Regions from separate parts of the Homo sapiens genome. Here all the other regions are reported to be linked to region 1. The links are microRNA targets in miRTarBase. Many come from high-throughput screens and were not tested one by one. Region 1 holds a microRNA gene; each other region holds the end of a gene's coding sequence.

Region 1 (4,617 bases):
AATAAAATTTCCCAAAGAAGTTGGAAAATAGGCCTTCGAGTACTCACTTGACAAATCCATAGTGAGTTTGCATTTCATCTTCTTCCTATTATTATTTGGATGGGGTCTCACTCTGTCACCCAGGCTGGAGTGCAGTGGCATGATCTCAGTTCACTGCAACCTCTGCCTCCTGGCCTCAAGTGATCCTTCAGCCTCAGGCTCCAGAGTAGCTGGGGACCACAGGTGTGCACCACCACGCCCAGTTAATTTTTTGTATTTTTGGTAGAGACAAGGTTTCACCATGTTGCCCAGGCTGGTCTCGAACTCCTGAGCTCAGGCCATACACCCACCTCAGCCTCCCAAAGTGCTGGGATTACAGGCGTGAGCCACCGTGCCTGGCCACATCTTATTTAATACAGCATCTTGTGTAACCTTTGAGCAACGGCACATAGGGTAGATTCTCTCTCTCCCCAGCCCACTTCCATGTATCTTCAGAGAGCTTGGGCCTGAAAGCCTGCTTGTTTGGGAAGTCTTCTTTGGAAGGTATTGATGTCTTTGAGTTAAACCTTCAGGAGTTTCTGATGTTAGACTTGGGATTTTGGTTAAAGAGAAAAGGGGGACTTAAGTGACATCACAATTGACAGGGAGAAAAAAGAAAGAACTCTGCTGGGGGCACACGTCCAACTTTCACACTGTGACTACTCAGGGATATTTCAGAATGTTTTCAAATAGCACGTACTTTTTGGATCTGTGAGAGCATTTCCAAATATTAAGAAAACTAACCGAATGTTTCTAATGTTTGGAATTACTCCAAGGCCAGGAATTCCAGATGTTTGTGAGGAAGACACAGCATGTGTCTGTTTAACTACTAAAGTGGGTTTTATGATGTCAAGAAGGAAATATCCATAGCCCTTCAATTCTTCTTCTTTAAAAACAAGATAACCTCCTTCAAAAGGCTATGAGGAGCTGGGTGTGGTGGCTCACACCTGTAATCCCAGCACTTTGGGAAGCCGAGGCGGGTGGATCATGTGAGGTCAGGAGTTCGAGACCAGCCTGGCCAACATGATGAAACCCATCTCTACTAAAAATACAAAAAATTAGCTGGGTGTAGTGATGCACACCTGTAATCCTAGCTACTCAGGAGGCTGAGGCAGGAGAATCGCTTCAACTTGGGAGGCGGAGGTTGCAGTGAGCTGAGATCGTGCCATTGTACTCCAGCCTGGACAACAGAAGCAAAACTCAGTCTCCAAAAAAAAAAAAAAAATAGGCTATCAGGAGGAGAAAACTAGTGTGAGTGATTAGTCAACAAATGTGTGTCCTCCTGTCCTCCTTGCTCTCTTTACCTCTCAGGGCTGTTGTAGCAAAAAGATGTGAAGCATTTAGAAGGTACATAGCATTACAGAAAATGCAGTATATTATGACAGTTATCACTGCAGATGTGGAATAAATAATTATCTGTGTGACGGATGCCAGATGCAAATCATAACCAGTGCTTCTGGCATCTGTCCCTCATATAATCATCTTCCCCATCTCTCCTGGTCAACCACATGAATCACGTACATCTTTAAATTAGGAACTTGACTGCTACAAATGTCTTGTGAAGAAGCCAATGTTATGATAATTCATTTTTTCTCATGAAATGCACTTAGTTTTACTCCATATTCCTGTATTTCATGTAAGATATTCACCACGATGAGAGTTTCTTGGCTACTCCACGCAAGAATCATCCAGATTGAAAAAAGCTGCAGAATCTACATGTGCAAGCCTAATGGTTTGGTTTTCGGTTTATTCAAGATTAATGCATTTAGACCATTCCTTTTTCACACTTACCCTTAAGAGTCCCAATACTTTGTTAAGGAGGCTCATGTTTCTGCAGTCCTAATTAACCATCACCAGCACTCCCACCTGAGAGTGAGCCACTCGGTAGATGGCAGGGGACAAGGAAACCAGTGCCCCGCTGCTTCCGGAGGGCTGCTGCAGGGCTGGGGCTTGTGGCTCTGTGTTTTGTGGAGGACGGGGACTCAAGTCCAGCCTTGCTCTGCTTACCAAGCTGGACACCCATGGGGCTGTGCCCACCCAAGTGGTGCCTTTTCTGACTGGAACCACTGTAAGGGCTCACTATGCCCTTGCTGGGGGTCTTTCCAGCAAATAAGACTCTTTTCTGCTGGTTTCATGTGTGTGGCCTTGCTGGAAGACAAGGGTGGGAATTCCCTTCCTTGAAGCCACTTGTCGAAGAAACCCATGGACTCTGCAAGGACTTACTGAGTGTGACCGAGTCATTGATCTTGAAGCTGCAGAGGACCCTGTCCACGTTGCGGGCATGTCGGAAGCCGTTTCCTCTCACGACAACTTGAAATGACTCTGAAATAAAGAATAATGACGAGACTCGTTACTTGGCCAATAACCTTAAGCTTCGCATCTGCCCTGATTTAGAGCATTTGTTCACTATTTCACCAGGCTTAAAATATTCAAAAATTAATTTAGGTTGAACACCAAAAGCAACCAGGTGGGTTCCTTTCACTACTTACCAGTGCATCCTCACTAGGTGTCCCAAGAAGGGCCTATCACTTCTTATTTGAATTCCCACCCTTTTACCTTTGGGCTTACTGGTCCTCCTAACGCAGAACACCTTCCTCCCTCCTCTCTGTCCATTCAAATCTTAGCCAGTTTTCAAATCCAGGCAGTTTGAAAATCTGTGATCTCAGTAGCCGGAGGGAGCCACAGGGGAGGGGTCCTCCACTTCCTCTTTAATCAACTCACCTCCTCTGTGTCTGTTTTGCACATTGTACTCCCCTGAAAGGATTTCTTAAGAGCCCACGGTGCCTACATTTTAGAAAGTCACTGCCTTAGGGCATTCACAGCTAGTCCTGAACAATGTAGGACTGTCATTATGTATGGTCTGGTGGTGTTCTCTTGTCTTTTCTTCCCCAGCTGGAGAAACATTCCTTTAGGTCAGGAGTTGTTTGATACCACTATGGCATTCCTATCTCTACTGGGCACACAGTAACAGTACATAGGCTAGGTAGGAATAATTGTACTTAGGAATGAATCAAAGTCTTTCTTAGCAGTGGTCAGTTGCCAAGCACTACCTACTTGAATTGATATCAGCCCCTCAGTGTAGTACTCATTTGTCTCTGCATAGAAGAGATCATATATCTTGCCTGGCCTGCATATTAATTTCTCATTGGCATAATGTATGTTTGATTAATGCACATGAATAAAATCGTTATTAAGTAAAAACAACTCTCCTTTACCATACTCCTACCATGGAAAAAACCCAATAATTAGTTGGCTAAATGTTTGGGAATATTTGCTTAAGTTTGTTGGTATCTAATGGTCAGTGTTCCACTTTATTTCACTTTTATCATCCTTTTGTATCTAAAAATTGGGGCTCGGGATAATGCTATGTGGCATATCACAAGAGAAATAGACTGAAGGTCAGAGGAAAAAATGCAATGTTTGTGAATATGGATCTTACACAGTACATTGCCATCTAAATGTAGACTTGTTGTTGGAGGAATAATGAAATTAGAGAATTAGTATATGGGACTCTCGAAGCTTAATAAATGTCATGAGTATATGCCACCTTCAGTCCCAGGAAACTAATTTAGAGGCCATGTTTGCCAAGACAATAATAACTAATGCTAATTGCTCCCTCAATGTGAGCCAGGCCCTCTGTGAAATATTGTACATGTCTGATGTCATTTAAACCTCACCACAGCCTGGGGAGGTACAGATGAGACAACTGATCTTAGTGAAGTTAAGTAATGTGTCCAAGATCACACAGCTGGTAACTTGTCAGAATCAGAACTGGAATCGAGGTCTGTTAGGCACCAAATGCCATGCCCTTAGAACTCAGCCATTAGCTTCTGAACCACCATGCGAAAAGGGGGACTCACTGCCTTCTGACAGATGAGTCATTTAGGAGTTGAAGTTGTGATTTTTTTTAAAGCTTATTTTATTTTAATTTTAGGCAGGTTTGCTCATTTTGCAGAAAAGTGGAACAGGCCTGGATGTGAAGCAAGAAACTGAAATTTAAGTAAAAGAATACAGAGACACTACATGTGCCACAAGGAGTATAAGTTAGAAAAGAATGCTTTTTAGAAGTATAAGAGGCCTTCACAATAAGGAAATGGAGACTGTGACATTTTGAATGACTTGCTCAGAGTCATGTCATTAGTAAAGCAGAAAAACTGGGACTCATATCCAAAAGCTAAGGTGACGGGCCTATGGTTTTTTCAGGAGCATAAGTCCTATGACTATGAAGGATTTATACATACACGTTGATGCAAATGCACAATTGCTACGTTTAGAAAGATGGGCTTAGTAGTTTTCTCTAGATGTCTGTCAGGCATCTGACAGATTCCTTGGTTGGCTCAATAAGCAATTTAGTACGTGTCAAGCACTTGTAGAAGAATCTTATCTTCTCTTATTTGCTCAGTTAAGCCTATAGAAACCTATTTCTGTGTCCATTTTGAATGCCAGACATACAGACATCTGTTGTTTGATGTTTTTGCTGATTCCAAATGTTTTCTGCCTCACTTCTGTGCCTACTTCTCTTGTTTCCTCAAAGATCAGCAGAGGAAGAGAAGACTGTGGAAATGCAGGCCACATGCCAAACTCTATTCTCTAACACCA
Region 2 (4,308 bases), not on the chromosome of region 1:
TTTACTATCTGCCAGGTATTATGTTAAATGTTTTAGATCAATTATCTTAGGAACAATATATATTGGATTCTGATTGCATTTCTCAATTAGGAAAGTGAGTAGCACTTTATAATACCTCCTTCAAAAGCTAATTAAAAGAAGAATCATGAAACCCCAGAAATATATGCTAACTTTTTTTCTGTTTTCCTTAGGGCATCCAATTCTACACTCAGTTAAAGACCATTACTTCTCAGTGGAAAGAAGAAGATGCTACTCTTTCCTCACCTGCTGTTGTCATGCCTACCATGGGCCGTTAGAAACAAGTTTGTTTAAGACTGACTCCATCCTGAGTAATCTCCCTTTATTTTTGACCAGCTTCATTTGTCAGCTTTGCTCAGATCAGATCGATGGGATTGGAATACATTGTAACTAAAATCTTCCTCAGGACTATTAACCCCCGCAAAGTTTCTATAGGGAACTGCCTAGTGTAACAATGAAACCAGATTTCTCACTTGCTCTTCATACTTCTATTTTGAGGTAACTGTTGTAACTATGAAATGCTTATCTGAAAGTAGTGCTTAAACCTGATTTCTAAAAATTATCCCATTTTCTGATGATTTGAAGGGGAGAAAAGCCAGTGTATGTAAAGAAAATGTTCCAGCCAGGCGCGGTGGCTCACGCCTGTAATTCCATCATTTTGGGAGGCCACAGTGGGCAGATTGCTTGAGCCCAGGAGTTGAAGAACGTGGCGAAACCCCGTATCTATTATTTAAAAAAATTGAAAAAGTAAAAAAAGAAAAGGGAAAAAAAATTTTTTAAAGAAGATGTTCCAATAATTGCAAGAAGAACTCTTAGATGGGGAAACAGGACAGAAATAACTCACCGCTTTTGGTTGATCCTCAAACATAGCGCTACCTAAATGCCACTGGGAGAGACCTCCTGCAAAGTTTTCTTTAGCCCCTCTTTTATCCCACAATACACAAGATATAATCCATTTTTATATATCCCAAAGTTGTGGCAACAGCTTCTTTCTTTTCTGCTCAATGCCACTTTGTTTCCTAGTAATTCATGACCACTATTAATTCTATCATTGTCACTGCTCCTGCTTAAGATCACTTCTCAAGGATACCTCAGTAAGCAATGGATAAATCAACTTTTTGTTATATGTGCCAAGTACTAAGTTTCAGGGTTCTCTTCAGCAATCATTAATTAATACTTCAGCCATTAATTCAGATGCAAATAATTTTCTTTTTTCTTTTTTTTGAGATGGAGTTTCACTCTTGTTGCCCAGGCTGGAGTGCAATGGCGTGATCTCAGCTCACCGCAACCTCCGCCTCCCAGGTTCAAGCGATTCTCCTGCCTCAGCCCCCCTAGTAGCTGGGATTACAGGCATGCGCCACCACACCCAGCTAATTTTGTATTTTTAGTAGAGACGGGGTTTCTCCGTGTTGGTCAGGCTGGTCTCGAACTCCTGACCTCAGGTGATCCGCCTGCCTCGGCCTCCCAAAGTGCTGGGATTACAGGCATGAGCCACCACACCCAGCCAGATGCAAATAATTTTCTTAGAAAATTATTTCAAAAGTTATTTTAGGCCCAGAAATCAAGGATTGTTCCAACCATGAAAATGGGTAAGACACCTGCCTTAAGCAAATCTAACCTGCTATTACTTGCCAAATTTTATATATTCTTTTCTCTTGCCTGTATTTCTAATTAGTGATTTGTTTAATGAAGAACTCTTCATGTAGAGCAATTAACTGGGCCTAAGAAATTTCGAAGCTTTCCATGACATAAAGTGGTTAAAAAAAAATGCTTTGACAGTCTTCTTCTGCCATTAGTTCAACTGCCTTTACGCTTTTTTTTTTTTTTTTTTTTTTGAGATGGAGTTTCACTCTTGTTGCCCAGGCTAGAGTGCAATGGCGTGATCTTGGCTCACTGCAACCTCTGCCTCCCGGGTTCAAGCAATTCTCCTGCCTCAGCCTCCTGAGTAGCTGGGATTTCAGGCATACGCCACCATGCCTGGCTAATTTTGTATTTTTAGTAGAGACAGGGTTTCTCCATGTTGGTCAGGCTGGTCTCGAACTCCCGACCTCAGGTGATCTGCCTGCCTTGGCCTCCCAAAGTGCTGGGATTACAGGTGTGAGCCACCACCCCCAGCCGCCTCTATGCTTTTTGTTTCTTTGATATATCTAAACTTAAGGTCAGAACAGAAATTCATGTGCTGAACAGAATGGATTCTTTTTGCAGTACCAATCCAATTGAATCCTCTTTTTATTTTCCTGCGTCCTTACCAGTCACTTTGATAGTGCTAACTAACCTACACTATGGGGGTTATTCATGAATTAAGTATGATAAAAAAAAAAAAGACCTTGAAAATGTTGTGTACCCTGTGGATTTGAGGCTTATTACTACCACCTGGCTGGATAAAATGTCAAAACCTTCAATCACTTAAGGTGACTGGAACTTTTGTAAAATACACTTATGATCCTACTGGGCCTTTTTTTTTTTTTTTTCTGCTTTCCTAAATATGAGGCAATAGAAATTTATAATTTGAGACTACAGTACCCCTTGTTTTAGCTCTTATCACAGCTGGCAACTGGTAGTGATTTTTTTTGTTGTTGTTTTGTTTTGTTTTGAGATGGAGTCTCGCTCTGTTGCCCAGGGTGGAGTGCAGTGGCACGATCTCGGCTCACTGCAACCTCCACCTCCTGGGTTCAAGTAATTCTCCTGCCTCAGTCTCCCGAGTAGCTGGGATTACAGGTGCATGCCCCCACACCCGGATAATTTTTTGTACTTTTAGTAGAGACAGGGTTTCACCATGTTAGCCAGGATGGTCTCAATCTCCTGACCTAATGATCCGCCCACCTCGGCCTCCCAAAGTGCTGGGATTACAGGCGTGAACCACCGCACCTGGCCCTGGTAGTGATATTTAATCCAATCCAACAACTATAGGCTGGGTTAAATAAAAGGTCATTATTGTCTATATTCCAAGTGGAATTAAATGTAGTCACAGAGATTCCTAACATTTTCCTTATATTTAAGGGAAATCACTTCTAAAAAAACACACTAATCAGAACTGTGATGCTCTAATTAGAAACAACTCATCTGGCCAACTATTTGCTGCTCAGAGTTTCTTATTTCTTAGATGAAAAAAACTCATCAGTTATATTCATGTGATCGCGGCTAAAAAGTCAGTATTTTCTTTTTGTTCTAATGTGGCTTCATTTGAAATTTCTCAGATTCTACATTGTACTAATTATGAATAACAAATTATAAATTAAAAACTCTTAAAGAGAAAAACTTGGCTTAAAAAAATCATTTCATATCTCCTTATAAGCCTTTGTCCTCTAGGTTGTAATGACTCTGACTTCCCACCTGTGATGGAAAGCTAAGAGTCACAAGGTCACTATGTTTACTCTTACGTAAAAGATAGTACACATTTTGGCTAGGCTGTTTACTTCAAAAGGCAACCTATAGGTTTCTACACAAAAAGAGGCACACATTTGCATTTGCATTAGTATAATATGCATTTGTACGGATATTGCTTTAAAAATTTATGTAATCTACTAATGCTATTTATTACTCATTCCACTGATCCCTGAAGTCTCTCAACTAGTAGAGAAAATAACCGTGATTTAGCAAGAAGCGACATGGGGAAGGGTGACAACAATATACATTGTTTGATTAGATACAGACTCCTTACTGTGTCAGACTCCTGAGGTTCTTTTGGAATAGTGGGTAGCACCACTTCACCAGAAGAGTCTGATATTGCAATTTGCTGGGTGATGAAGATTTTATCTTGAAGCTTACTTTCATCCCTGCAATAATGACAAAATAACAGAACCGTCAACAACTCTACACACATGAAACCTGGTTTAGAATAACAGACTTGTCATATTACTTTCAATTAGCACATTCAAGATGCCCACAAGAACCATCGTGTTGGGCTCATGTTTATTACTTAAGCAAGAGAGCTCTTACCCAAATTCCTTTGTTTCCCCACTGTCAGAAACAACATAGTCTGGAACTGGAGGCCTAGAACTCTGGTTGTATTTCCTGTAGTGGGTAAAAGTCAACAAAGATAATGAATGAGGCAGTGTCTCCTCATGCCTTCATATTTTCTTTTTGTATTTTAATTTTTTTTTATTTTTTATTTTTGTGGGTGATAGTAGGTATACGTATTTGTGGGGTACGTGAGATGTTTTGATACAGGCATGCAATGTGAAATAATCACATCATAGAGAATGAAGTATCCATCCCTTCAAGTATTTATCCCTTGTGTTACAATCCAATTACACTCTTTTAGTTATTTTAAAATGTATAACTGGCCAG
Region 3 (4,308 bases), not on the chromosome of region 1:
AAGAAGTGAACTTGGAGCAGGTCCACCGGCGCATGAACAGCCTCATGGATGAAGACATTGCTCACAAGCAGATTTCCCCAGCGTCGATTGAGCTCTCGGCCCTGGAGATGGGGGGCCTGGCTCCCACCCAGACCTTGGAGCCGACACGGGAGTACCAGAACACCCAGCTCTCGGTCAGCACCTTTCTGCCAGAGCAGAGCAGCCATGGCACCAGCCGGACACTCTCATCAGGGCCCAGCAGCAACCTGCCGCTGCCGCTGAGCAGCTCGGCGACCATGCCCTCCATGCAGTGCAAACACAGGTCACCCAACGGGGGGCTGTTCCGGCAGAGCCCGGTGAAGACCCCCATCCCCATGTCCTTCCAGCCCGTGCCTGGAGGCGTCCTTCCAGAGGCTCTGGACACCTCCCACGGGACCTCCATCTGACTGCGCCGCCTGCCCTCCTGCCCACCCTCCCACCCACCCGACCAGCAGAGCTTTTTAATACAAGAAAACAACAACACAAACCACACACACTCGCACACACACACATACACAGAGACTCTTTCATTTTTCTTGTACATATGTGTAAATAATGACAGAATGGAGTGGGGTAAAAGTGTATTTTGAATATTCCCAATTTTCGAAGTCAGTAAAAAAACACAAAAACTGTATGAATGACTTTGTAAATTTTGTTCTATATGAATAAAAAGGCAAATTACTTGTGATCATTCTGAAGTGCCAAAGGAGCCCCCCCATTCCTGGGCCTTTCTGAGGGCAGGAGGGGCGACCAGATAAGGAGCCCCTCTCTGCTGGGGGAGAAGGGAAGACGAGGAACCCCACATGCCACTCGCTGCCTTGTCCCACAGCTTGCTGCCCCATTTCTTTGCTCCTGGCACCTCGTCCCTTTTAGTCCCTCAGCTTGATAAAGAGTGAGTTTGGAGCCCGCATTGGGCTGGCCCACTGGGTTGCTGTGCTGTAGGGTGATCGGCTGTTCTGGGTAGCCTGGGGCTGAGGAGGTGCCCTGGACTCAGGGCTATCCTGTCCTGTCTTGGATCTTGCGGGACGAGTTAGTCACCGCTGTGTGTGTTGCAGTGTGCCTCTGCCCCATGGGCCCGAGAGAAGCTGACAATTACCCATAGTGAGGTAATTGAGGGCTTTGATACTGAGCTGTTCTCATATCATACTGTTGGCCTTGTTTTTCATTTTCTTTTCAAAATTAGAAGAATCAAAAAGTGATAGAATATTGGGGGAAGGAGGGCAGACTCCATCGTTTCCTCAGGGAGACTGGGCGGAGGTGGGGTTGGTCTGGAAGAAGGTCCATGGGGGCAGGGAGTTGCGAGGTGGGGTTAGTTGCATGGACCAGGTGAGGTGGTGGAACAAAAGGCCAGGTAGAGGAAGAATATTCCCTTGGGTTTGGACCCATGGTCCCAGGTGAGAGAAGGAAGTGAGGCCATAGATGCAGGGAGTAGAAGCTTTGTGGTGTCAGGCAAACGGACTCTGTTAGTAAGAGTTGGGGGAGGTGCCCAGGTGGGTGGACCAGTACTCCAGGTGATGGGGCATGCTGAGAAATAGAGAAAAGAGACCATGTTTATTTGGGTAGGAGGAAGCCTTGCCTTGCGCCTTAGGTGAGAAGCATAAGTGTAACTCCCATCCACCAGGGAAGTTGCTTGTAGCCCCAAAAGTAAAGGCCTATCTCTGGGTCATAAATCCTGCAGGCAGTCCAACAAACAGGGCTGGCTCCAGCACAAACTCTCCCTTCCACCTTTACGACCCTCTCCAGACCAGACCTGGAGTCCTCTTCAAGCAGCAATCCAACCCAGAGCAGGGGCCCTCCCCACTCAGGCATCTGATAACCTCTGAGATTTCCAGGCCTATCCCTGTGCAGGTACAGCTGCAGGGAAGCCCAGTTTTCTAAGCCTAGGACCACCTAACAGCGCCCCCTCCTTCAGTTGCCCTTTCTGAGGCAACTAAACTACAGAATCAGGGAAAGAACCATTAGGAGTGGAACTGGGGGAATCTGAGTTGTGTCACTTCAGTTCCTCTCCTAAAGACAAAGGTTAGTCTGATCTCCAGACCCGTCAGAATGGAATACACAGCCCACATCTGTCACTGAAGGAGGTGGAGCTCCCACAGCCAGCAGTAATCAGGGAGCTGAGAGCCTGGTTCTGTGATCATGGAGAAATACAAAGTCCTATTGATTGCTTCTTCTATAGCCTTGTAGAGTTTCTAGAGAGATGTATTTATGAGGGTGATAACTAGCCCAGGATTGATTTCTTTCCTAAAGTCCCTAGTGACATGATTGAGCAGTAAAGAACGGCCAAATCACACAGTCAGCTAAAAGCACTGTGGGGAAGAGAGTGTTTATAATTATGTTATTTATTGCTGGATGCTGAGAATGGTCTGATATTCGTGCTACCTAGGCAATCCATTGACATTTCTCCAATCAGAGCATGTGGACCTTGGAGCCAGGCATGCTCAGAGAAGCCTAGGTGGGCTACCATGACCCCGAGGAAGAGCAGGCTTTGTTTTCCATCAGCACGTTGGGGGCCCTGCCCTGAATGGTCAATTTTTCACATATATATCTCTCTATTTTTTTAATCAAACTCTGGTCTCACTGCCTTATCTCACACCAACTCTGTTTCCTCATTGCCCCCTGAGATGGCCTGTCTTCTGGGGTATAGCTTGGATGTCTTCTTGGATGGTTCTGCTTAGAATGAGTGTCAAGGAGGAAAGAGAGGGAGATGGAGGATGTGTTTGTGCGCCTGTGTGTGTGTGTTTGTGTGTGTGTGTGTGTGTGAGAGAGAGAGAGAGAGAGAGAGAGACCAGCATCTTCAAGAGAAGTATTCTGCTTATACAAAATCCTTAACACCTCATGGTGTTATTCTTCACCATGTTTATATATATATATATATATTTTTTTTTTTTTTTAGAATTTTCTACCCTTGGCATGAGGGGAAATGATTGATATTCAAGCAAGTTCTCTAGGAAAAAAAAAAACTTCCCAACTCAGATTTCTGTGTCAGCTCAGAATGTATCTTTTTTTCATGCTTTGCTCTTTGGATTTATAACTCTGTTTAGACTATTCCATACATTTTAGGTATATTTTGTGCCTTCAGACACTGCAAATAATAATCAGCATTTGGATTAAAGTTGTTTAATAATAAATCTTGTCTTTGCTCCCTATGCTCTTATTCTCTGGGGTGAAGAAATACTGTCTGCTTGTTTCTGGGCATGCTGAGATCATGAAGTAAATTCTGTGCTATCAGCAGGGACAGTCATGAGGAAAACTCCTCTCCTCAAGGGGGTCTCAGATATGCCTGGAGGTGGGGGCAGGCCCTCCTCACCCAGTGCATATCCAGAGTTCCCTGAAACCAACCAGGGGACAGTGTGAGGGACAGGCTGAGGAGCAAGTCTAATTTTTGGTTAACCTAACAGTGTTCTTTAAAATATTACGTTCTTGGAAGTGTCTTAGGAGAGAACTGGGTCATCATCATGCGTAGAGAAGTGCTCCCATGGCCTGGAGGAATGAACACCCCTTTAATTGTCAGCTGACTGTGCTGCCACTCTCATCTCTGCACTCACCCTGACCTCAGATAAGTTGCTTCCCTGTGCTTAGGTCTCAGAGCTAAGGGACTGTCATTCCTGGTGGAGCACAGCTTGGCTGGACCCCCAGCTTGGCTTCTCAAAATTTGGCCCTTACAGGATCTGTGGAGACCTTTCTCCAATGAACATCTTATGCCCTCAGTCATCCTACAGGCCTCAAGCCATCAACCTGATCTTCCACCCCCAGATGTGTGTGCTTTTCAGCCGACCTCTGAAAAAGTCCCCTGGCTTCAGTGACTTTGTGGGGGACAGCCCCGCTGTCGGCCTCAAGCTCAGTAAAGCTGATCTGAGGAGGCTGTCTGACATGATCAAAATTTCTTCTTCTAGAAACCAAAAGGAGGATGCCCAGCCCTAGTTCTTCTGCCCTGCACCAAGGACAGGCTTCTCCACGTTGGGGCCACTCCTCAGACTGGGGCTGAGGGGCGGGCAACAGACACCGCTGGATTCTGTGAGCAGATGGGTGGACAGGAGCAGCTGCAGGGAACCACAAAGGGCTGTTTTCTTAAGAAGAAGCTGCCTAGTTCCTAAATCAGAAATCCCCCGAATAGTGCCAAGGTAAAACTAATTCCATACCTAATGTTTGTCTTTTCAAGTTCTAAAGGAGAAGCAGACACATTAAAGAAGAAAAGACCAGTGGTCCTAAAGGCCACGAGGACATGGAGGGACGCAGTCTATGGCCTGTGCGTTTTCATTTAAAAGTCATTCCATTTAATAATAGATGATA

The links. The annotated mature microRNA hsa-miR-3126-3p reads CAUCUGGCAUCCGUCACACAGA and lies in region 1 at 1,434-1,455, opposite strand. An mRNA with a match to its seed (bases 2 to 7 or 8) in the 3' UTR can be bound and repressed. Matches are read on the target gene's strand: a 7mer-m8 pairs with bases 2 to 8, a 7mer-A1 pairs with bases 2 to 7 and ends in A, and an 8mer does both.
Region 2: the mRNA of ALDH6A1 is a reported target of hsa-miR-3126-3p. Seed matches in the 3' UTR shown: 7mer-m8 at 1,522-1,528.
Region 3: miRTarBase lists GRID1 as a target of hsa-miR-3126-3p. Seed matches in the 3' UTR shown: 7mer-A1 at 769-775.

The regions. Positions count from the first base shown.
Region 1 is chr2:69,100,565-69,105,181 of GRCh38, reverse strand. MIR3126 (microRNA 3126) reads right to left here and starts at 1,500; the gene lies at 1,427-1,500. ANTXR1 (ANTXR cell adhesion molecule 1) reads right to left here. Exons shown (of 18, transcript NM_032208.3): 10 at 2,242-2,340.
Region 2 is chr14:74,056,630-74,060,937 of GRCh38, reverse strand. It overlaps ALDH6A1 (aldehyde dehydrogenase 6 family member A1), which reads left to right. Exons shown (of 12, transcript NM_005589.4): 12 at 192-4,091. The coding sequence ends at 296. It overlaps BBOF1 (basal body orientation factor 1), which reads right to left. Exons shown (of 12, transcript NM_025057.3): 10 at 3,958-4,032; 11 at 3,680-3,794. Among named protein-coding and RNA genes, the nearest start is that of ALDH6A1, 26 kb to the left of the region's middle.
Region 3 is chr10:85,598,390-85,602,697 of GRCh38, reverse strand. It overlaps GRID1 (glutamate ionotropic receptor delta type subunit 1), which reads left to right. Exons shown (of 16, transcript NM_017551.3): 16 at 1-3,146. The coding sequence ends at 425. All of the region lies in intron 2 of GRID1-AS1 (GRID1 antisense RNA 1), which reads right to left. Among named protein-coding and RNA genes, the nearest start is that of GRID1-AS1, 23 kb to the right of the region's middle.